3 linked regions of the Homo sapiens genome follow. The protein of the gene in region 3 purifies or fractionates together with the protein of the main gene of each other region. This does not show direct contact. Each region holds a gene or a part of one and is shown on either strand. Other genes may lie near its edges.

Region 1 (7,000 bases), on a different chromosome or scaffold from region 3:
ATTGCTGCAATGTACGAATGTACTTTTTTTTTACACATTTGTGATTGTTTCAGTAGGATAAATTCCTAGAAGTAGAAATACTGTGTCAAATGTCAAATTTTATTTTTAGATGTTAGCAAATTGCCTTTTAACATAGTTGCACTAATTTTCCAACAGATAATGGAAGAAGGTACTCTTTCCCCATGTATGGCATTGCCAATCTCATAGATGAAAACAATTATGTTTTTTATATTTTGTGCTTTTCAAAAATTAGTAAAATTAAGGATCTTTTCATGGCCAGTAGTTATTTGTCTTTCTTATTTTGTAAATTGCCTTTTTAAGTATCTTGTGCTTTTTCATGTGTTGATCATCCTTTTCTTAACTAATTTGGAAGAGCTCTTAGGAAAAAATCATTTTTATTGGTCGTAGTGCTGAAAATATTTTTCTGTTTCTTTTTTGTTTTTCTTTTCAGTTTCTTATTTTGAGATTTAAAATGTCAAAGGGAGTTTTTCTTTATTCATGTTGCTGTATTTATTTATGTTTCCCATTATGGCTTTTGGGCCTCACCTACTCCAAATTATAAAAATGCTTATCTGTATTTTCTTTTCCTGATTGGTGATTTTTAACCAGTTTGATTGTTTGGTTGATTGAGACAGGGTCTTGCTCTGTCAGACTGAAGTGATCCTCAGTCTCAGACTCAAGTGATACTCAGTCTCTGAGTAGCTGGGACTACAGGTGCATGCTACCACTACTGGCTTTTTTTTTTTTTTTTCTGAGACAGAGTATTGCTTTGTCACCCAGGCTGGAGTACAGTGGTGTGAGCACAGCTCACTGCAGCCTTGACCTCCCAGGCTCAAGTGATCTTCCACTTTAACCACCTGAGTAGCGGGGACAACAGGCACATGCCACCACTCCTGGCTTTTTTTTTTTTTTTTTTTTATGTGGAGACAAAGTCTCATTATGTTGCCCAGGCTAGTCTCAAACTCAAGTGATTTTCCTGCCTTGCAAAGTGCTAGGATTATAGGTGTGAGCCACCGTGCCCAGCCTCCCAGCTAATTTTTAAATTATTCCTAGAGACAGAGTCAACCTATGTTGCCCAGGCTGGTCTTGAACTCCTGGCCTCAAGCAGTCCTCCCACAGTGCTAGGATTATAGGTGTGAGCTACTGTGCCTGGCCAACCAGTTTGATTTAAATTAAACCCATTCTAGATGATGTGTGACAGCTCAATTTTAATACTAATCTAAATAGGACCTATAATTGTATGTAATGGAAACTTGATTAATTTCAGAGGAAACAATCAGTTTAAAGATGATAGAGCAATTTAGAGATGTGATGTATCTCATATCCCACTGCTTTAACCCCCTAATATTAACATATTAACATTTCCTTTTGTCTTTTATTTTTTTTTAGTTGAGGAAACGTGTGAAGCTTGAAGGGAAAGAACTTGAAGAATACTTGGAAAAAGAGAAACTAAAGAAAGAAGCTGCCAAAAAGCTTGAGCAGTCAAAAGAGTGAGTCATTTTCAGACAGATTATAAATTTATGGATGCAATTTGAGAAGAATGTGTCCTTGACTTAAATGTTTCATTGAAAATATTTTTAAATTTTCGTAAGACTTAATTTTGTTACAGACATCTTTCAAATGTCTAGAATACCAGATCCTGTCAGTGCTAATATTATTATGCATTTATTTGTTATGTTTTATAAAATGTCAGTCCAATAAAGTTGAATGTTATTCCAGTCATGCATCACTTAATGATGGGGACAGTTCTGAGAAAAGTGTCGTTAGGGGATTTAGTCATTGTGCAAACATTAGGATATATGTTTACACAAACCTTGATGGTATAGCCTACTGTGTATCCAGAGTATATGATATGGCCCATTGTTCCTAGGCTACAAACCTGTACAGCATGTTACTGTACTGAATACTGTAGGCCATTGTAACACAATGTTAAGTATTTGTGTATCTAAATGTATCTAAACATAGAAAAGGTACAGTAATCTTATGGGACCTCTGTTGTATATGTGGTCTATTGTTGTTGACCGACATAACTGTATATTATCATTTAATATTGAATTAATAATATTGAGTATGGATTCAGTAATAAATTGATAAATATTAATTTAAAATATCTTTGAAACTTTATGACCTTGATCTATTCTAAAATCCTCCTAGGGCAGATATAGATTCCAGTGATGAGAGTGATATTGAGGAAGATATTGACCAGCCATCAGCTCATAAGACGAAGCATGACTTGATGATGAAAGGTGAAGGCAGTCGTAAAGGAAGTTTTTTCAAACAGGCAAAAAAGTCCTATCCTATGTTTCCTGCCCCAGAAGAAAGAATTAAATGGGATGAATATGGAGAGATTATCAAGTATGTGAGCAAAACAAACTTTTCTCTCTTACAAATTGGAGGTATTAACTGTGTTATCATTTCATTTCAGTGAATTTGATCTTTCACTTGATCTTTCTAGTCACATGTATGGGGTTAGCTTCTGAGTACCTCAGCCTGAAGACACAGAAGACTTGTAACTTGAAACATAAAAATAGAGATGCTGAGAAACATCTAGAGAATATTGAGAGAAAACTGGCAGTTTATGACTTAGTTGTGTAAAGGTTTAAAAACATGATCACGTGATCAAGACTTTTTTCCCCCACTTAAAAAGAGAGGAAGATGTAGGATAGGAAGAACTTTGGGGCTGTGTGTGGTGGCTCATGCCTGTAATCCCAACACTTTGGGAGGCCGAGATGGGAGGATCACTTGAGCTCAGGAGTTTGAGACCAGCCCAGGCAATATAGTGAGACCCCCATCTCTATCTTTAAAAAAAAAAAAAGAACTTTGGATGGCTGGTGATTGCATTTCCAATGGATTATGTCTTAAGTATTATACAAGTTTTATGAGATTAAGAGGAATGTGAGATAGCATGAGTGAAATCATGGAAAAATCTACAAAATCTATACTGACTATTAGAAAAACAACTGCAATCACATGTTGTAATTGCAAATTTGAAAACACTACTATCCTGTGTGGAAAATAAAAAAAGAAAAACATGATACAGGCCAGGTGTGGTGGCTCACGCCTGTAATCCCAGCACTTTGGGAGGCCGAGGCAGGTGGATCATGAGGTCAGGAGTTCAGGACCAGCCTGGCCAAGATGGTGAAACCACATCTCCACTAAAAATACAAAAAAATTAGCCGGGCGTGATGGCAGGCACCTGTAATCCTAGCTACTCTGGGGGCTGAGGCAGAGAATTGCTTGAACAGGGAGGCGGAGGTTGCAGTGAGCCGAGATGGCGCCACCACACTCCAGCCTGGGTGACAGAGGGAGACTCTACCTCAAAAAAAACCAAAAAACGCAATACATACAGCCATCTGGTAATTGATATGAAATTGCATCAGCTTTGGATGAAATGTATATTTAAATCTTGAGATATGTGAGGACTCCAAAAATTATGCCACCTACTAGTCATATATGTTATGTAGTATTAGCTTGCTTTTTACTGCTTCTAATTAGAGACTTATTATTTAGACCAGAGGATTTCTTAGTGCCAGAGCTTCAAGCTACTGAAGAAGAAAAAAGCAAATTAGAATCTGGTTTGACAAATGGAGATGAACCTATGGATCAGGATTTATCTGATGTTCCTACTAAATGTATTTCTACAACAGAGTCTATTGAAATAAAGTAAGTGCTTTTGTGACATTTTGAAAATAGATTATAAGATAAAATTTCAAGCATTTGAATTATATAATTTACATTATGTCAAGCAAAATTTCTGAATATTCTTTAGTAAGTTTGTGCTTTTAAAATTTATTTTTGTATGAAGAGACTTGTGAAGTATGGTGGCATGATATTTTCTCTTCATTAATGGTATTTGAATGCCAAAGTAATTGAATTGGTGGTGGTGGGGGGTGCTTAAATTGTAACATTAAATTGTACATTTATATGAAGAAAAATTATTTTTGGCCTTTTTATTCTGTAAGCAGGTGAAAGGGAATAATGTGACTCACAGTTTAATTTTTCTGAGTAACTGCTTGTTTCATAAAATATACTCCTTAACTTAAACATCTCTAAGACCCTAATGTCTGGAAAATACTGTTGTGATCTGAAGTAGTTAGAAACCTTTTTTCTCCCGCTTTCTACTTAGTTAAATAATACCAGTAAGTGATCATTTTGGAATTTCTTTTAAGTCATCAGAGAACAAAGTTTTTTATTTGTCCAGTAATATCATTTAGTATATATTTTTGGGTGTAGATAAAATCTAAATAATACAGATAGGGCCGGGCACGGTGGCTGATGCCTGTAATCCCAGCACTTTGGTAGGCCGAGATAGGCTGATCACTCGAGATCAGGAGTTTGAGACCAGCCTGGCCAACATGGTGAAATCTCATCTCTACTGAAAATGCAAAATTATCCCTGCGTGGTGGTGCATGCCTATAATCCCAGTTACTTGGGAGGCTGAGTCAGGAGAATCACTTGAACCTGGGAGGTAGAGGTTGCAATGAGCGAAGATCATGCTACTGCACTCTAGCCTGGGCAAAAGAGCGAGACCCAATCTCAGAAAAATAAAAACAAAAATAAAATAAATCATACAGATACTATAACATGTGTATTTCTCAAATCCTAGTGTTATATATTGTATACATGATAAAAGCCATTTTTTTTTAGAATTATGAGAAAAGTAATCTTGAATAATCATATCTAATTACAGAGCCCGGGTTACCTACATAGACTATGAAGGACGCTCTGATGGGGATTCCATTAAAAAAATCATTAATCAGATGAAACCACGACAGTTGATCATCGTCCATGGCCCACCAGAGGCCAGTCAAGATCTGGCAGAGTGCTGTCGCGCCTTTGGTGGGAAAGATATTAAAGTGTACATGCCAAAGCTACATGAAACAGTTGATGCCACTAGTGAAACTCACATCTACCAGGTAAACATGCCAGGAGTTGCCATTGAGTAGAAATAAGTACTTTTTGTTGCAGGTTAGGACAGATAACATTAGAAATACCGAGATGTGTGAGACAGACATGGATGGTCTCCTGCCCTAGCAGACCTCATAGGGTATGGGGCTTAGAACAAGGAAATACCATTTATCATGTTGTTGTGCCACTGAGAGAAGAAGTACAGGATGCTATGAGAGTATCAAGAGGGGAAACCACCCACATTTAGAGGTTTAGAAAAGGTTTCCTACAGGAAGTGATAACTAATCCTAACTGATGTTTAGATGGGTTGTCAGGACAGACAGAGTAGGAAAGGGGGGGAAGAGCGTTCTAGGCAGAGGGAACCATATTTGCAAAAGTACAGAGGTGAGGAAAATGATTAAGAATTCAAAAGTTTTAGAAGAATTCCCGGATATCAAGGTTCTACTCCTAATTGGAACAAATGGAGATGGATACCAAATATAGGACTAGCACAGTAGAGAGATAAATTTTGTCTGGTAATGGGAGATGGTGTCAGTTTAAGGCCAGAGTGATGTCTATATCTGGAAGAAATGGATGTGCACATACCAGGCAGGAAATTTATTCTGGGCAGAGTAAGAAGAAGCAACCTTCCAAGAATATGGAGATGTGAAATTCTGTGGTATATTCAGGAAAGGACAAGCAGTTCAGTACCTACTGAAGTATGCCAAGTACTAGAGGATGGGAGTGATCAGTGGTTCTCAACCTTGACTGCACATAAGAATCATCTGGGGAGCTTCGTGAGGGTCAGAGGGACTCAGTTTTTCTGGTCTTAATCTTACCAGTTATGTTAGAAACACTGGATATGACGCTCTGATATACTTTTTGTTTTAATTGCCATGTGATTCCATTTTGTAGTCAGGGTTAAGAATCTCTATTTTGGAAAGTAGGCAGGGGCCCAATGATCTGCAGGTAATGAGGTCATTGCAGGTCATTGTGGGACTCAGATGAGTGAAAGATTTTCCAATTTTAACATATTACCAGAGGTAGAAAATGATAATAGGTTATATTTAATTTGTTAATATGTATTCTGTGGGTTTTATTTCTCTCCCCCTCCTTTGCATGTCTAGGTGAGGTTAAAAGACTCACTTGTCAGCTCTCTTCAGTTTTGTAAGGCAAAAGATGCTGAATTAGCTTGGATAGATGGTGTCTTAGATATGAGAGTTTCCAAAGTGGACACAGGGGTTATTTTAGAAGAAGGAGAACTAAAGGATGATGGAGAAGACTCAGAGATGCAAGTGGAAGCTCCCTCAGATTCTAGCGTTATAGCACAACAAAAGGCCATGAAAAGTCTGTTCGGAGATGATGAAAAAGAAACAGGTGAAGAAAGTGAGATCATTCCTACTTTGGAACCCTTGCCACCTCATGAGGTAAAAAAAGCATGTGCTTTTTTGATTTCTTCCTGAATTTGTCATCCTTCTAGTTTTCATGTCTTTTGGTTTTTTTCCCCCCTTCTAAAACTAAGTGGGTCTGTGGAACCTTTTATATTTTTAACCATTTAAAATATATGTCAGCTGGGGGCAGTGACTCACGCCTGTAATCCCAGCACTTTGGGAGGCTGAGGTGGGAGAATTGCTTGAGGCCAGGAGCTCTACATCAGCCTGATTATAGGGACACCCTGTCAGAAACCTAGTCGGCATGGTGGCATGCACCTGTAATCTCAGCTTAGAAGGCTGAGGCAGGAGGATTGCTTGAGCTCAGGAGTTCGAGACTACAGTGAGCCACAATTGTGCCACTGCATCTAGCCTATATGATAGAGTGAGACCCTGTCTTGAACATAAAATATGTCTCACATTTGGGCTGATTTTGGAGTTTTTAAAAAAGAGAACTTGTGACATGCTTCTGTGTGTATGTCTCTGTGTATATATTAATTCTATATAGCTAAGGAATGACATATCTTTAGCAAATCTTTTAAGGTACATAATTGTTTCATGATTTTTTTTTTTTGGTCTGGATTTTTAAATTTTAAGTTTGATGATTGTGAGGATCACCTGCCTGCTTCCAGTCAGGAGATTTATAGTTTTCTAAGAAAGTCATACTGTTTTTTTTTTGTTTT
Region 2 (7,000 bases), on a different chromosome or scaffold from region 3:
TTTTTTTTTTTGAGAGCATCTCACTCTTGCCCATGCTGGAGTAGTGGTGTGATCATGGCTCACTGCAGCTAGGACCTCCCAGGCTCAAGTGATCCTCCCAGCTCATCCTCCAAAGTATCTCGGACTACAGGCATGCACCCCCATGCCTGGCTAATTAAAAATATTTTTTTTTTGTAGAGATGGGTTCTTACTATGTTGCCCAGGCAGGTGCTGAATTCCTGAGCTGAAGTGATGCTCCTGCCTCAGCCTCCCAAAGTGCTCGGATCACAGGCGCAAGCTACTGCACGTGGCCTTGATTATATTTTATGGTAGCTGGCAGTTTGCTGTGGTATCTGTCTAACAAAAGCAAATATTTTCCATTATATGTGTTTGTGCGCTGAAATTAAAAGTGGCACTTCATGGTGGCTTCGGCAGATTTGTCAGTGCAGCAGTACGGAGACTATGGCTTTGCAACCCTGAACCCAAGCCTTCCATTGAGTAGTGGAAAGGCCTTGTACAAGTTATTTCAGCTCGCAGAGTCTTGGGTGTCCCAGTTAGTAAAATGAAGGTTGTAATAGTGCTTTCCTCATGGGACTGTTGTGGGGCATGGCACAATGTGCGTAAAGCGCCTGGCACAGTTTGGCGCATAATAGGTGCTGCTCCATTCTCCCTTCCCTGCCTTTGATTGCACCAGTTGTTTTCTTTCCATCAGTCCTCTCTATTATTTCTCCCCCATTCTAGTACAGCTAGGTATAACACATTTTTCACATTGCTAGGGAGTTAAATCAGTTAGCAGATCATTTTGTGATTGGTTAAGTTTCCTTTAAAGCATCTATGTTGTTAATCCCAGCTACTCGGGAGGCTGAGGCAGGAGAATCGCCTGAACCCGGGAGGCAGAGGTTGCAGTGAACTGAGATCACACCACTGCACTCCAGCCTGGGTGACAGAGCAAGATTCCACCTCAAAAAAAAAAAAAAAAAAAAAAAAACTATGTCATTAATGATGTTCTAAGACCAGAATAGACCAGCATATGTACTCATTTATCAGTATAGATTGAACTATGTGGAAATAGCTCTTTTAAGTGCATTTCAGTATGTATTTAATATATGTACTTTCAGAGTACTTGTCCACATATAGTATCTTCATCATTTTACCCTAAAAATCAGAAGTTTACACCAAAAGCCACACCTTAAAAGTCAGCTTCTTGACTTTAGCGACTTTTATACCTTTTTCTTCTGCTGATCCACACATGGTGTTCATGTGAGGGGCACTTGCATGCATAGATATTCGTGACACTGACTAGCAAGTGCTCTCCCACTCCTGTTTGTGCTCCGCAAGCACACTCTATTGAGTTCAGACTGGTGATGTGGTGGGGAGAGCCTTGAATGTTCTTTAATGAAGAAAGTGTATCCTTCTCAAACTTCACTTCTCAAACATCCCAAACTGCGGTTACTTTGTGTGACACACTTGATAGGTGATTTTGAAACATCAGTGTGTCATGATAGCCCATTTAAGAACCAGAGCTTTAGCCCAGCTCTTTCATGGTACAGATGAGGAAACAGAACAAGTGGGGATTAGAACACTTGTGTCCTGATCTGGTCCAGTGCTTTTCAGCCTATCGTGTGATCATCGGATGAGTTCAGCTTCTCAGGTTTTATGAATCATAAGCAGGAGAACATTGCTAAAAGTCTTAAGATTTAAAACTTAGAGATCATGTTCTTATCTGTAATTGATTATTATCTTTTGGCATGTAATTTGATAAATACAAAGCAGTTCACATCATGTACAAGAGTTTCTCACCAGATGCAGTGGCTCACACCTGTAGTCCTAGCATTTTGGGAGGCTGAGGCAGGATGATCCCTTGAGCCCAGGAGTTTGAGACCAGACTGGGCAAGATGGTGAGACCCTGTGTTTACAAAAAATAAATTTAAAACATTTAGCTATGTGTGGTGGCATGAGCTTGTAGTAGCAGCTACTCAAGAGGCTGAGGCGGGAGGATCACTTGAGCCTGGGAATTTGAGGCTGCAGTGATTTGTGACTGCCACGGCACTCCAGCCTGGGTAAGAGTGAGACCCTGACTCAAAAAAAAAAAAAGAGAGTTTCTCAAAGTCACTGTTTTTCAACCTGGGGGTCATAGTCATAGGTTGTGAATTTATTTTAGCTGAAACAGCAAGTGCCACCTGAGCCATAGTGTTTTTCAACTGCATGGGTCTGTTTTGGGCTCTCTCTTCAGTTTGTCTATCCTGTGCCAATTCCACTGATTAACTTATTGCTAAGGCTTGCTATCTGGTAAGACAAATCCTCCTACCTGCTTTTTTTCTTTCCTTGCAGGGTGTTTTGGCTCTTTCATATAAATTTTAGAATTATTTTGTCAAGGTCTGTGAAAAACCCTGTTGGTTTTTTTATTTGAATTGCATTGAATTTATGGATTATTTAGGGGAGAATTGACGTCTTTGCCATAATGATTATTCTAACCCAGAACATGCATATAACTCCATTCGTCTAGGTATTGAATATTCTTTCTATTTTTGAGACATGGTCCTGCTCTGTTTCCCAGGCTGGAGTACAGTGGCATGATCTCAGCACACTGCAACCTCCGCCTGCTGGGCTGAAGCGATCCTTTCACCTCAGCCTTTCGAGTAGCTGGGACCACAGGCATGTGCCACCAGACTCAGCTAATTTTTACAGTTTTTGTAGAGACGGGGTTTTGCCCTGTTGCCCAGGCTGGTCTTGAATTCCTGGACTCAAGTGATCTGCCTGCCTCGGCCTCCCACAGTGCTGGGATTACAGGTGTGAGCCACCGCCCCCGGCCAAGTCTTTAATATCTTTCAATCAAGTTTAAAAACATTTTGCCATAGAGGTCTCACACATCTTTTGTTAGATGTATTTCTAGGTACTTTATAGTGCTTGATGTTTATGCTATCCTATTTAAAATTACATTTTAAAGCTTGCTGGTTTATAGAAATGTAATTTTTTTATTGTAAAAAACATATAACGTAAACTTTGCTATCTTATTCTTAAGTGTATGGTTCAGTAGTGTTAAGTATAGTCACATTGTTGTGAAGCAGATCTCCAAAGTTTTCATTTGCATATATACAACTCTACCAATTAAACAGCTCTCCTTCTCCTTCCTTCCCAATCCCCTGATAACTACCATTGTAGTTTTCTGTCTCTATGAATTTGACTAGATACTTCATATAAGTGGAATCATACAGTATTTGTCTCTTTGTATATAATTGATTTTTATACATTGCTCTTATTGCTTGTCACTTTGCTAATCTTGTTTATTATTTCCAAATGATTTGTTTGTAGATGAGTTTTGGTTTACTATACATTGATATCATCTGACCATAATTAACAGTTCTCATTCTTTTCTCTATATCTGTTTCTTTTCCTTGTCTCATTGTTAAAACCCCAGACCTCCAGTACAGGGTTAAATAGAAGGCAATACTGGGAAGTTTTTTGTGTTTTTTAAAAGGAATTTTAATGTATTATTAAATTTACTAAATATAAATATATAAATATATAATAAACAATATAATAAATATATAAATATGTTATTAAAATATATTTATTGCAGATTTTAAAAATCAGGTTAAGGAAGTGCCTTTCTATTCCTAGTTTGCTAATTCTTAATTTTGACTCATGAATGGATGTTTTAATCAAATGCTATTTCTTCATTGAGGTAATCATGTTTTTTTCCCTCAAATCTGATGGTGGAAAAATTATACTGGATGATTTTGTAGTGTAAAAACACCCTTGCATTCCTGGGATAGACCCAAATTGATCATTATGTATTGTTCTCTTTATACATTTCTGATTTTTTAATATTTTATTTAGGATTTTTGTATTAATGCTCTTGAGTGAGATTGACATGTAATTTATTGAATTCTGTGTGCCAGGTAGGTAAAGAATCTAACCAAGTCAAGGATAAGACATACAAGGTACTTATCCCATGAAGCCTTTAGGTCATGATGGAAATAAACACGATGATGAGATGGAAAACAGCTTGCAGCATATAGGGGGCTACTTAAGAAAGAGTGGCATAGGAGGGGGGCCGGGGGCGCCCTCTGAGGAAGTGAAGTTTATACCTGAAGTATGAAAAGGGGTGGCTAGGCAGAGAGAAGGTGAGAGATCCTTCTGGGCTGAAGGAGCAGCAGGTGCCTAGCCCTGAGGTTGGAGAGACGTTGGAATGTTTGAGTTACACGAAGCTGGCTGCCATGTTGAGAGGCCGGTGGTTTGAGATGTAGCTGGAGAGATGAGCCCAGCATGCTGGGATTGCACATGAGGCAGGGATTTGCAAATTGTTCCTAGGATACTGGGAAGCCATGGAAGGGTTTTACTATTATAATTAGTAGAGAAAGATAATGAGTTCTTGTTTAAAATCTAAACACTTGAACAAAACCCCGTAATCCTTCATATTTGTATTCTCTGAATGGTTGGTCCTTGTCCCCACTCCATTTAAAGGTTCACTGGCTACTTCATTGTTAAGATTTTTATCCTAAAGTTCAAGTAATCATATTCATTGGCTGTCTTTCTGTATTTTAATTAAATATCTAGTACCTGGATTATTAGGGTATGTTGTCAGATGGTAGAGTGTAATTTGAATGAAGTGTAGGTAATCTTTTATCTCTGGAGAGGGAAATATTCCTAAAATGTGGCAGATGTTGGAAGAGTAGATACTAATGAAGTCTTGGTGTACAGACTTAAATTATCCCTATATCCCAACAAAAGCTTTTTAAACAATTCGCCTTTTTATTTTGAGATAATTGTAGATTTCCATGCACTTGTAAGAAATAATAGAGATTTTTCGTGTACTTTTTACCCAGTTTCCCTCAATGATAACACTTTGAGGAACTATAATATGTAATAACCTGGGTATTGACATTGATATAGTCAAGATACAGATCAGTTCTGTCACCTTAAGGATCCTTGATGTTGCCTTGAAATTTTTCTCTTGTCCTAACATTTTGTGATGTTATATTTACATTTCACATTTAAGTGTGATCCATTTTGAGTTATTTCTGTAAGGCGTGAAGTTTAGGTCAAGGTGTATTTATTTGTTTTGCCTGTGGATATCCATTTGCTCCAGCATCATTTTTTGAAAATGCCTTTTTTTTTCCTCTGTTGCATTGCGTTTGTCAAAAATTATTTGGGCATATTTGTGTGGGTCTGTTACTGGGTTCTATTCTCTTCATCTATGTATCTTTCTGCCATTCTCACACTGCCTTGATGATTGTAGCTGTATTGTAGGTTTTAGTATCAATCAGGTAGAGTGATTACTCCCACTTTATTCTTTTTCAAGATCATTTTTAGCTATTCTAGGGCCTCTGCCATCCCATATACATTTTAGAATAAGCTTGTCTAGGTCTACAAAAAACCTTGTTGGGATTTTAATTGGAGTTTCAGTAAGCCTGTAAGTCAGTTTAGGGAGAATTTACTTCTTGACTATGTTGAGTTTTTCAATCCATGAACATGAAGTGTCTCTTTTTTTAGGTCTTTGATTTCTTTCCTCAGCATTTTGTAATTTTCAGCATACAGATTTTGTAAACTTTTTAAATATACACCTAATTATTTAGGTTTTTTGGAGTGATTGTAAATGGTGCTATGTCTTTAAATTTGGTTTCCACATGTTCTTTTGTTTTTTTTTTTGTTTTTGTATGTTTATCTTATATTCTGTGACCTTGCTCAGTTCACTATTTTTGGAGTTTTTTTTTTTTTTAATTGGTTCCTTAAGATTGTCTACTTAGCCATATCATCTACAAATCAGGACAGTTTTATTTTTCCGAGCTGTATAGCTTTTATTTCTTTTCCTTGTCTTATTGAACAGGCTAGAACTTATAGGACTTTGTTGGAAAAGAGTGGTGAGAGCAGACATCCTTGCCTTGTTCTTGATTTTAGGAGGAAAGTGTTCAATCTTTTACCATTAGGAATGATGTTAAGGTAACCCTATATCCCAACTTATGGGATAGATTTTTTATAGATGCTCTTTATCAGGTTGAGGTTGTTTCCCTCTATTCCTAACATGCTGAGTGTTTTAACCATGAATCGTTGTTGGATTTTGTCACATGCATTTTCTGCATCTATTGATACCATGAGTTTTCTTTAGCCTTTTGATACACTGGATTACAGTAATTGATTTTTAAATGTTGAATTAGCCTTGCAAACCTGGAATAAATACCACTTGGTCATGGTGTATAATTCTTCTTATACACTGAATTTAGTTCTTTAAATTTTCCTCCGTACTGTTTTAGTAGCATCCTACTTATTTTGATTTGTTGCAATTTCATTTTCATTCACTTTTTTTAATTTGTAAATTTTCTTGGAGACTTCCTCTTTGACCTGCAGATTATTTAGAAGTGTATTACTTAATTTTCACGTGTTCAGAGATTTTCTTACTGTTAGTGGTTTCTAATTTGATTCCATTGTGGTCACAAAACATACTCTGCATGGTTTTCATTTCTCTTAAATTGTTGAGGTTTGTTTTATGGCCAAGGATATGGCTTCAGTGAATGTTCCGTAAGTACTTGAGAAAAATACATATTCTGTATTGTTGGGTGGGCTGTTCTCTATATAAATTAGGTCATGTTCGTTGACGGCGTTATTGAGTTCTTCTATAACCCTGTTCTGCCTAGTTTAAAAAAAAATTAAACAATTTCCTTTCTTTTTAAAAACTTAAAAATTTTTTAATTTGCTTTTGTCTAATTTTCTTTTTCTTTTATTCATCTTCTTTTTGACCAGGTTCAACATATTCAAGTGTCTAGTAGTTTTATCAGTTGCTGAAAAGGGAGATGTTGAAGTTGCCAAATGTAATTGCTGCTGTGTCTCTTTGAGCTCTGTAATAGTTTTTGCTTCATGAATTTTCAAGCGCTCTTTGGTTCCTACACATTTAGGATTGTTATGTCTTCCTGGTAGATTGATCTATTTATTATTATGTGTCATTATATAATCCTTTTTATCTCTAGTAATTTTCTTTGCTCTGAAGTGTACGTTATGTGATATTAATATGTCCGCTTCAACT
Region 3 (7,091 bases):
TCTCTCTTTCCTATGCTCTTCTTCTAGGAGCCACACTCAAGGGGTCATTTATCCAGACCTGAAGCTCAAAGTCTCTCTCCTTACACAACCAGCGCCAACAGGGCCAAGCTACTGGCTAAGAACAGACAAACTTTCCTGCTTCAGACCACAAAGCTGACCCGTCTTGCCAGACGCATGTGCAGGGACCTATTACAGCCAAGGAGGGCCGCCCGACGGCCTTATGCTCCTATCAATGCCAATGCCATCAAAGCAGAGTGTAAGGGCAGGGAGTGGTGGGACTGGTGGTGGGTTTCGGATTGCTCTGCCCAGAGACCGTTGTTTCTCTGGATGTCTAATAACAGGAGGGATAGTAGGCCACAGATAATTTTTTTAAGATTAGAGTTGGCTTCTGGCCTTAGAGGAGACCTGAATGGTGAAGCCCTTCAGAAGCTTTCTTCTTTGTTCTCCAGGCTCCATTCGACTTCCTAAGGCCGCCAAGACTCCATTGAAGATTCACCCTCTGGTGCGGCTGCCCCTGGCAACTATCGTCAAAGATCTGGGTATGGGATGGGGACCAGTGAGGTTGGCATCAGGCTCCCAGTCCTTTCCCTGTCTGACATCTCTCCCCTTGCTTTTTTTCTTCCTCATAGTGTCCTCAGAGATTTAGTCTAACAAACTGTACTTTTGTTGTTTAATAATTTTTTTTGTAAACTATTCAGTATTACTGTACTGATTTGATAAGGTCATACTGATATTTGAAATACTAGTGATAGCTTGCCAGAACATTCCCCCATTGCTACTTTTGGGGATGCCCAGGTAAACTGCTGGTCCAGGGAAGAGAGATGGAAGTAACAAAGGGGAACTGCGTGGGAAGAAAAGGTGCGAAAGTTTTCTGTTTTTTTCCAGTGGCCCAGGCACCCCTGAAACCAAAAACACCTCGGGGTACCAAGACACCGATCAACAGAAACCAGCTGTCCCAGAACCGGGGACTGGGGGGCATTATGGTGAAACGGGCCTATGAGACTGTGAGTTGACAGAAAGGGGTGGGCCAGATTGAGTTGGGTGGGCTTTTGTCTCTCATAGGAGTCTGAGAGGGTCCCTTCCCTCATTGTGCCATCCTACCCCTTTTCCAGATGGCAGGGGCAGGGGTTCCTTTCTCTGCCAATGGAAGGCCTCTGGCTTCAGGGATTCGTTCAAGCTCACAGCCAGCAGCCAAGCGTCAGAAACTAAACCCAGCTGATGCCCCCAATCCTGTGGTGTTTGTGGCCACAAAGGATACCAGGTAAGGCGTCTACCATGGGAGGGGCTGAGAGGGACAGTCCAGGCTGGTGAGTGTGGGGAGTAGGAGTATCAGAGCAAGAGCTCCAGGAAAGTTGTGGATGCAGGGTGGGGATGCCAGAAAAGAATGGGCCAGAAGGCATAATTGCAGTGTGGGGCTTCACCTGGAGGTCTTAATGTTCTCTAAGCCTTTTCTGTTTCCCACTTGCTCTTTCTGGCCAGGGCCCTACGGAAGGCTCTGACCCATCTGGAAATGCGGCGAGCTGCTCGCCGACCCAACTTGCCCCTGAAGGTGAAGCCAACGCTGATTGCAGTGCGGCCCCCTGTCCCTCTACCTGCACCCTCACATCCTGCCAGCACCAATGAGCCTATTGTCCTGGAGGACTGAGCACCTGTGGGGAAGGGAGGTGGGCTGAGAGGTAGAGGGTGGATGCCCAGGGCACCCAAACCTCCCTTCCCTTTCGTGTCGAAGGGAGTGAGGAGTGAATTAAGGAAGAGAGCAAGTGAGTGTGTGTCCCTGGAGGGGTTGGGCGCCCTCTGGTGTTACCACCTCGAGACTTGTCTCATGCCTCCATGCTTGCCGATGGAGGACAGACTGCAGGAACTTGGCCCATGTGGGAACCTAGCCTGTTTTGGGGGGTAGGACCCACAGATGTCTTGGACAGTTTTGGGGGGAGGGTTTTTTAATTTTTTAAAAATTTTGCCTCCCTTTGTGAAAGGGGATGGGGAGGGGAAGAGTAAACAGATAACAGGTGGTGGTACCTGGTTGGGGGAGGGGGGCGTGCACTGCCATGTCTTTTTTTTTTTTTTTTTTTTTTTTTTTCCTAATTGGGGGTTTCTCTTTCTGTCCGGTGTCCGGACTTTCCTAATTGGAGTTTGAGGCCCCTAAGCTGGCATCAACCCCAGGCCACGCTCGCTCTTTCCTTCCCTCCCCTCCCCCTCTGCCTTTTGTACGCCAGTTCTCAGAAATAAAGATCTTTTGTCCGTTTTTTTAACCTCGGATTCTGTAATTGGTTCTTATAGTAACAAATAAAAAGCTGTTTTCTTCAGCTTCTCCTGGCTCAGCTGTTCTTTGCCATGGGTGTGTGTTGTGTGTGTGTTGGGGGTGTCTTTGAGAGGGAAAATAAAGGACAAAGGACAACAAAGGAGGTACAGATGGTTCTTGCCCTGGGAACAGCTTTATGAGATAGGCAGCCTGGACCCAGGCGGCTTGCTCCAGCTAGGCTTCTTGTGGGACCCAAACTGCTCCCCAGCTCCCAGTGGTGCTGGAGCTCAAGAACCATCTTGGCCCAGATTCATTCAAAGGAGTTGAGATGAGCTTTCTGGATGACTGGTGGCCTCCATAGGAAAGGGGAATGGGGGTGTTTCTTCCTCTGTTTCCCACCTCTTACTCCCCTCTCCCTTTTGTTTAAGGAATTCTGGAAGTTGCTAGCAGCCAGGGTAACATGTATACCCCCTTGGGGGTGGTGGTGGGGTTATAGGAGGATCCCCTCACCTAGCTGTGTGGTGTATTTGGCAGACGAGAATTCTACCACTGAACCACCCTAGCACCTCTGGGTGTATGTGTACAGCCTGCTGCTTCAGGATCCTCAAGGCCAGTCTCGATGATATCCCGATCCACTGTAGCACTGTTTCCTGCCTTAAAGGTTTGGGACACTGAGATTAGATGCCTGAGCTGGGCCCATTAGAAGGAACACCTTAGGATAGAGAACAAGAAGTTCAGCCTGCTGTGTGCTCCTTGGGCACTTCCTTTAGAGATGGGAAACGGCCTCAACAGTTGTGACTTGTTCAAGGTCAAAGACCTTGGTGTCTGCCTTAGGTCCACTGCTCTTTGCGCCATTCAAAGCTGTGGGCTGATAACCACAGCACAAGCTGCTGAGCCCATCTGATAGTTCTCTCCACCTCGTTATGGTCCCTGTCCCTAGGGCATCCCCAGCTCCCCGTAGTCCCTCCCTGTCCTGAGCCTACACCTCGGCGGCGTTGGGATGAACTGACAATTATACCAGGAGGGGGTTGACAGCATTCGCCCCCTCCAGTGTCTAAACTCAGTTACTGGCACTCGGTTTTGTCTTGTCGCACTGCTCTGAGGTGCGCCAGTAGCTCTGGCGCCTCCGGCGTACACCACGCAGCCCACTACTGCGGAAGGAATGGGCCTGGCTCCAGGACCTCGTGGAGTCCGGAAGGTGCCCGGTGGTGGCAGAGCTCCCCAACCAGGGCTAGAAGCCGTCGCAGAACACCCGTTTTGCGGGAGGACAGGGGGCGGAGGGAGGGAGTAACAGCCCTGAAAAGGTTGGAAGTCCAGGGACAGCCCTGGGCTCCGTGGGGCAAAGAATTGGAAGCCGCCGATCCTCCGCCTTTATTCGTCGGGTAAATAAGGGTCGAGGGTACAGACGCACGGGTGTCTACTGCGGGGTGAAGGAGCTGCCGCAAGATGCCACCCGGCGCCGGCCTTTGTGGCTGCTGTCATGAATATTCACGATGCTTTGGGCCAATCAACGTCTGAACAGCTTAAAGCACACCAATCGGCTTACCGCATGCAGATAAGCATCGTAACGCGCCGCTTTTCCTGAAACGGGCGGGGACTGGACAGCGGCTAGAAACGGAACCCAGAGTCGAAGGAGCTTGGTTTCCGGAGGAGTGTGTCCGCGCAATTGAACGACTTTATGTCACTTCCTATCGGATCGGCGGAAGTTGCTTCCGAGCGCGTTGAGCTTTGGCGAAGTGGGTTCCGGTGGTGGCAGAGGTGCTTGTGTTTTTGTCGGTACAGGAGAGTCGCTATGGCGGCGGTGGATTCGGATGTCGAATCGCTGCCGCGTGGGGGGTTCCGCTGCTGCCTCTGCCACGTTACTACAGCCAACCGTAAGCGGTGGCTAGTGAGGGACCCGGGGGTGGTTGCGGGCTTTCGTCTTTTGATCCTGGCGAAAGTTAGGGTTATAGGTAGTCAGTCGTTCTTGTCAAGTTGATTGGTAGGGTCTCTCACCTCCGTTTTTCTCTGCAAGTCCGAGGGGATTTGGAGAGTCGGGAAAGTTCCACCACATTACACTCCTCAGTATATGAAATCTCCACAACGCAAGTTTAATTGTTTTATTACTTCTTTAACCATCATCTATTGGACATATGCTCTGTGCCTGGTATTCTGCTGATCTTTAGGGTGGGGGAGGGGGGTTCAGAGATGAAGGAGCTCACCGTCTAGAGAATGAGAAAGTTTCAATGCTTTATAGATATGTTCGGAGAACTGTGGGACCACAGAGAATTAGTAACTAAATCAGAGAAGCCCTACAGAGGACCTACTCAAAGGAGGGGATGGATGAAATAGGTGTGGCATGAATGACTAGACCATAAGGTACCAGTGAGGAAGAGACAGAAGATGGGTTTGGAAAAATAGACAAGGTTCTTGTATGACACACAAGGGGTTCACTGTAACTTCAAATTCCACTTTTTTTTTTTTTTTGAGACAAGGTCTTGCTCTGTCACCCAGGCTGCAGTGCGGTGGTGTGATCTTGGCTCACTGCAGCCTCAACCTCCCGGGCTCAAACCATACCCCTGGCTAGCCTCCCAAGTAGTTGAGTCTACAGGTGTGCACCACCATACTTGGCTAATTTCTTTTTTCTTTTTTTTTTTTTTTTGAGACAGAGTCTCACTCTGTCACCCAGGCTGGAGTGCAGTGGCACGATCTTGGCTCACTGCAAGCTCCACCTCCTGGGTTCACCCCATTCTCCTGCCTCAGCCTCCCGTGTAGCCGGGACTACAGGCACCCGCCACCACGCCCGGCTAATTTTTTGTATTTTTTAGTAGAGACGAGGTTTCACCATGTTAGTCAGGATGGTCTCGATCTCCTGACCTCGTGACCCGCCCGCCTCGGCCTCCCAAAGTGCCGGGATTACAGGCCTGAGCCACCGCGCCCGGCCTACTTGGCAAATTTTTTAGTTTTTTGTAGAGATGGGTTTTCACCATGTTGCCTAGGCTGGTCTCCAATTCCTGGCCTCAAGCGATCTTCCCATCTTGGCCTCCCAAAGTGCTGGGATTACAGGCGTGAGCCAATGTGCCCAGCCCTACTTTTGAAGTCTGGAATCACAGTGTTCCCTAAACAGGGTTTACTTCCATTCTTCCTTTTCACTGTGAATGGCACTATCACTGTTCATCCAGTAAGCCAAGCCAGAAACCTAGGAGTCTTCTTTGGCCCCACATTTACTTTGGTGACATCAAGCAGCTAACTCAATAAAATAATAGCAACGGTTAGTTTTTCAACATTTACCGTGTACCAGACTCTCTCTGCCAAGTGATATATCTGAATAATACCTGTGTGTGAGGTGCTAGATACTGATATTTCCATTTTATATCTGAGGAAGTTGATGCACAGTGAGGCTTCATAACTTGACCAAGGTCTCACACAGGTTGACAGAGCTGGGATTTGAACTTGGGCAATGTAATTTCAGATCCTGCCTTTGACATCACTATATTATACCATGTCCAAAGATGATCCACAAAGTATTCCATGATCCAAATTTTTTTAGTTCTTGTGTAGATGACCTGGATAAGTTACCTGTTAATTTGTTTCCAACTCTACCTAGCACAAATAGGTGGTTTAAGAAATACTTTACTATCACACTGTTCTTTAAGTAAAAATAAACAAAATACTTGTAGTGTAGCCAGTTCTCCTGGGAACCCTCGTCTCTACTAAAAATACAAAAATTAGCCGGGTGTGGTGACACACGCCTGTAGTCCCACCTACTCACGAGGCTGAGGCAGGAGAATTTCTTGAACCTGGGAGGCAGACGTTGCAGTGAGTGGAGACTGCGCCACTGAACTCCAGCGGGGGCGACAGTGAGACTCTGTTTAAAAAAAATAAATTAAAAAAAAAAGAATGTACTATTTAGACAAATGTATAAGAGAGGAAGGTGAAAGGAGCCAGGACTTTGTTTATTCAAAGGTCACAGTTTCTGTGGCTTGGAAGGATCAGTAAGATTTAGGTATGCAGAGAGCAAAGGCAGACACGTCGAAGAGTGCTTTGCATGTTTTTGTCTCACACTTGTCTTTGCAGGACCCAGCCTTGATGCCCACTTGGGAGGCAGAAAGCACCGGCACCTGGTAGAACTACGAGCTGCGAGAAAGGCCCAGGGACTTCGAAGTGTGTTTGTCAGTGGCTTTCCCAGGGATGTGGATTCTGCTCAGCTCTCTGAGTACTTCCTAGCATTTGGACCTGTGGCCAGTGTTGTCATGGACAAGGACAAGGTAAAGTGAATGGCTCTCGGGTTAAAGAATGAATCAGTGCTGGGCGCGATGGCTCACGCCTGTAATCCCATCACTTTGGGAGGCTGAGGCAGGCGGATTACCTGAGGTTAGGAGTTTGAGACCAGCCTGGCCAACATGGTGAAACCCCATCTCTACTAAAAATAAAAAATTAGCTGGGTGTGATGGCGCATGCCTGTAGTCCCAGCTACTTGGGATGCTGAGGCAGGAGAATCGCTTGAACCCGGGAGGTGGAGGTTGCAGCAAGCTGAGATCGTGCCACTGTGCTCCAGCCTGGATTACAGAGCAAGACTCCGTCTTAAGAAAAAAAAGAATGAATCAGATGTGCTGTGTACCAAAGAGACAAGAGAGAGAAACCAACAGCCTCTTTGAGCTGGTTCCTAATGTGGCTTATTCTTGATGGACATCACAGTACTTGGGCTAGACCAGCTTTGGGAGCTTCTCACACCTCCCCCACCCCTTGAATTTTTATTTTTATTATTATATTTTTGAGTGCAGTGGCACAATCTCAGCTCACTGTGACGTCTACCTCCTGGGTTCCAGCAATTCTCACACCTTAGCCACCCAAGCAACTGAGATTACAG

The links. The genes of interacting proteins can lie anywhere in the genome.
Region 1: the proteins of TUT1 (region 3) and CPSF2 purify together in Homo sapiens (co-immunoprecipitation; 2 studies listed by IntAct, with this or other methods). This does not show direct contact.
Region 2: the proteins of TUT1 (region 3) and SART3 purify together in Homo sapiens (co-immunoprecipitation; 5 studies listed by BioGRID and IntAct, with this or other methods). This does not show direct contact.

What each region holds. Positions count from the first base shown.
Region 1 is NC_000014.9:92,152,969-92,159,968, forward strand, and holds part of CPSF2 (cleavage and polyadenylation specificity factor subunit 2), read left to right. Parts: intron 1-1,389; coding exon 1,390-1,490; intron 1,491-2,154; coding exon 2,155-2,355; intron 2,356-3,510; coding exon 3,511-3,663; intron 3,664-4,690; coding exon 4,691-4,916; intron 4,917-6,014; coding exon 6,015-6,314; intron 6,315-7,000. UniProt on the Homo sapiens protein: Component of the cleavage and polyadenylation specificity factor (CPSF) complex that play a key role in pre-mRNA 3'-end formation, recognizing the AAUAAA signal sequence and interacting with poly(A) polymerase and other factors to bring about cleavage and poly(A) addition.
Region 2 is NC_000012.12:108,551,174-108,558,173, reverse strand, and holds part of SART3 (spliceosome associated factor 3, U4/U6 recycling protein), read left to right. Parts: intron 1-7,000. UniProt on the Homo sapiens protein: U6 snRNP-binding protein that functions as a recycling factor of the splicing machinery. Promotes the initial reassembly of U4 and U6 snRNPs following their ejection from the spliceosome during its maturation.
Region 3 is NC_000011.10:62,588,429-62,595,519, reverse strand, and holds the start of TUT1 (speckle targeted PIP5K1A-regulated poly(A) polymerase), read left to right. Parts: upstream 1-3,996; 5' UTR 3,997-4,034; coding exon 4,035-4,116; intron 4,117-6,298; coding exon 6,299-6,489; intron 6,490-7,091. Other genes in the region: metastasis-associated protein MTA2, read left to right, coding at 28-256, 450-539, 886-1,004, 1,113-1,261, 1,480-1,645. UniProt on the Homo sapiens protein: Poly(A) polymerase that creates the 3'-poly(A) tail of specific pre-mRNAs. Localizes to nuclear speckles together with PIP5K1A and mediates polyadenylation of a select set of mRNAs, such as HMOX1.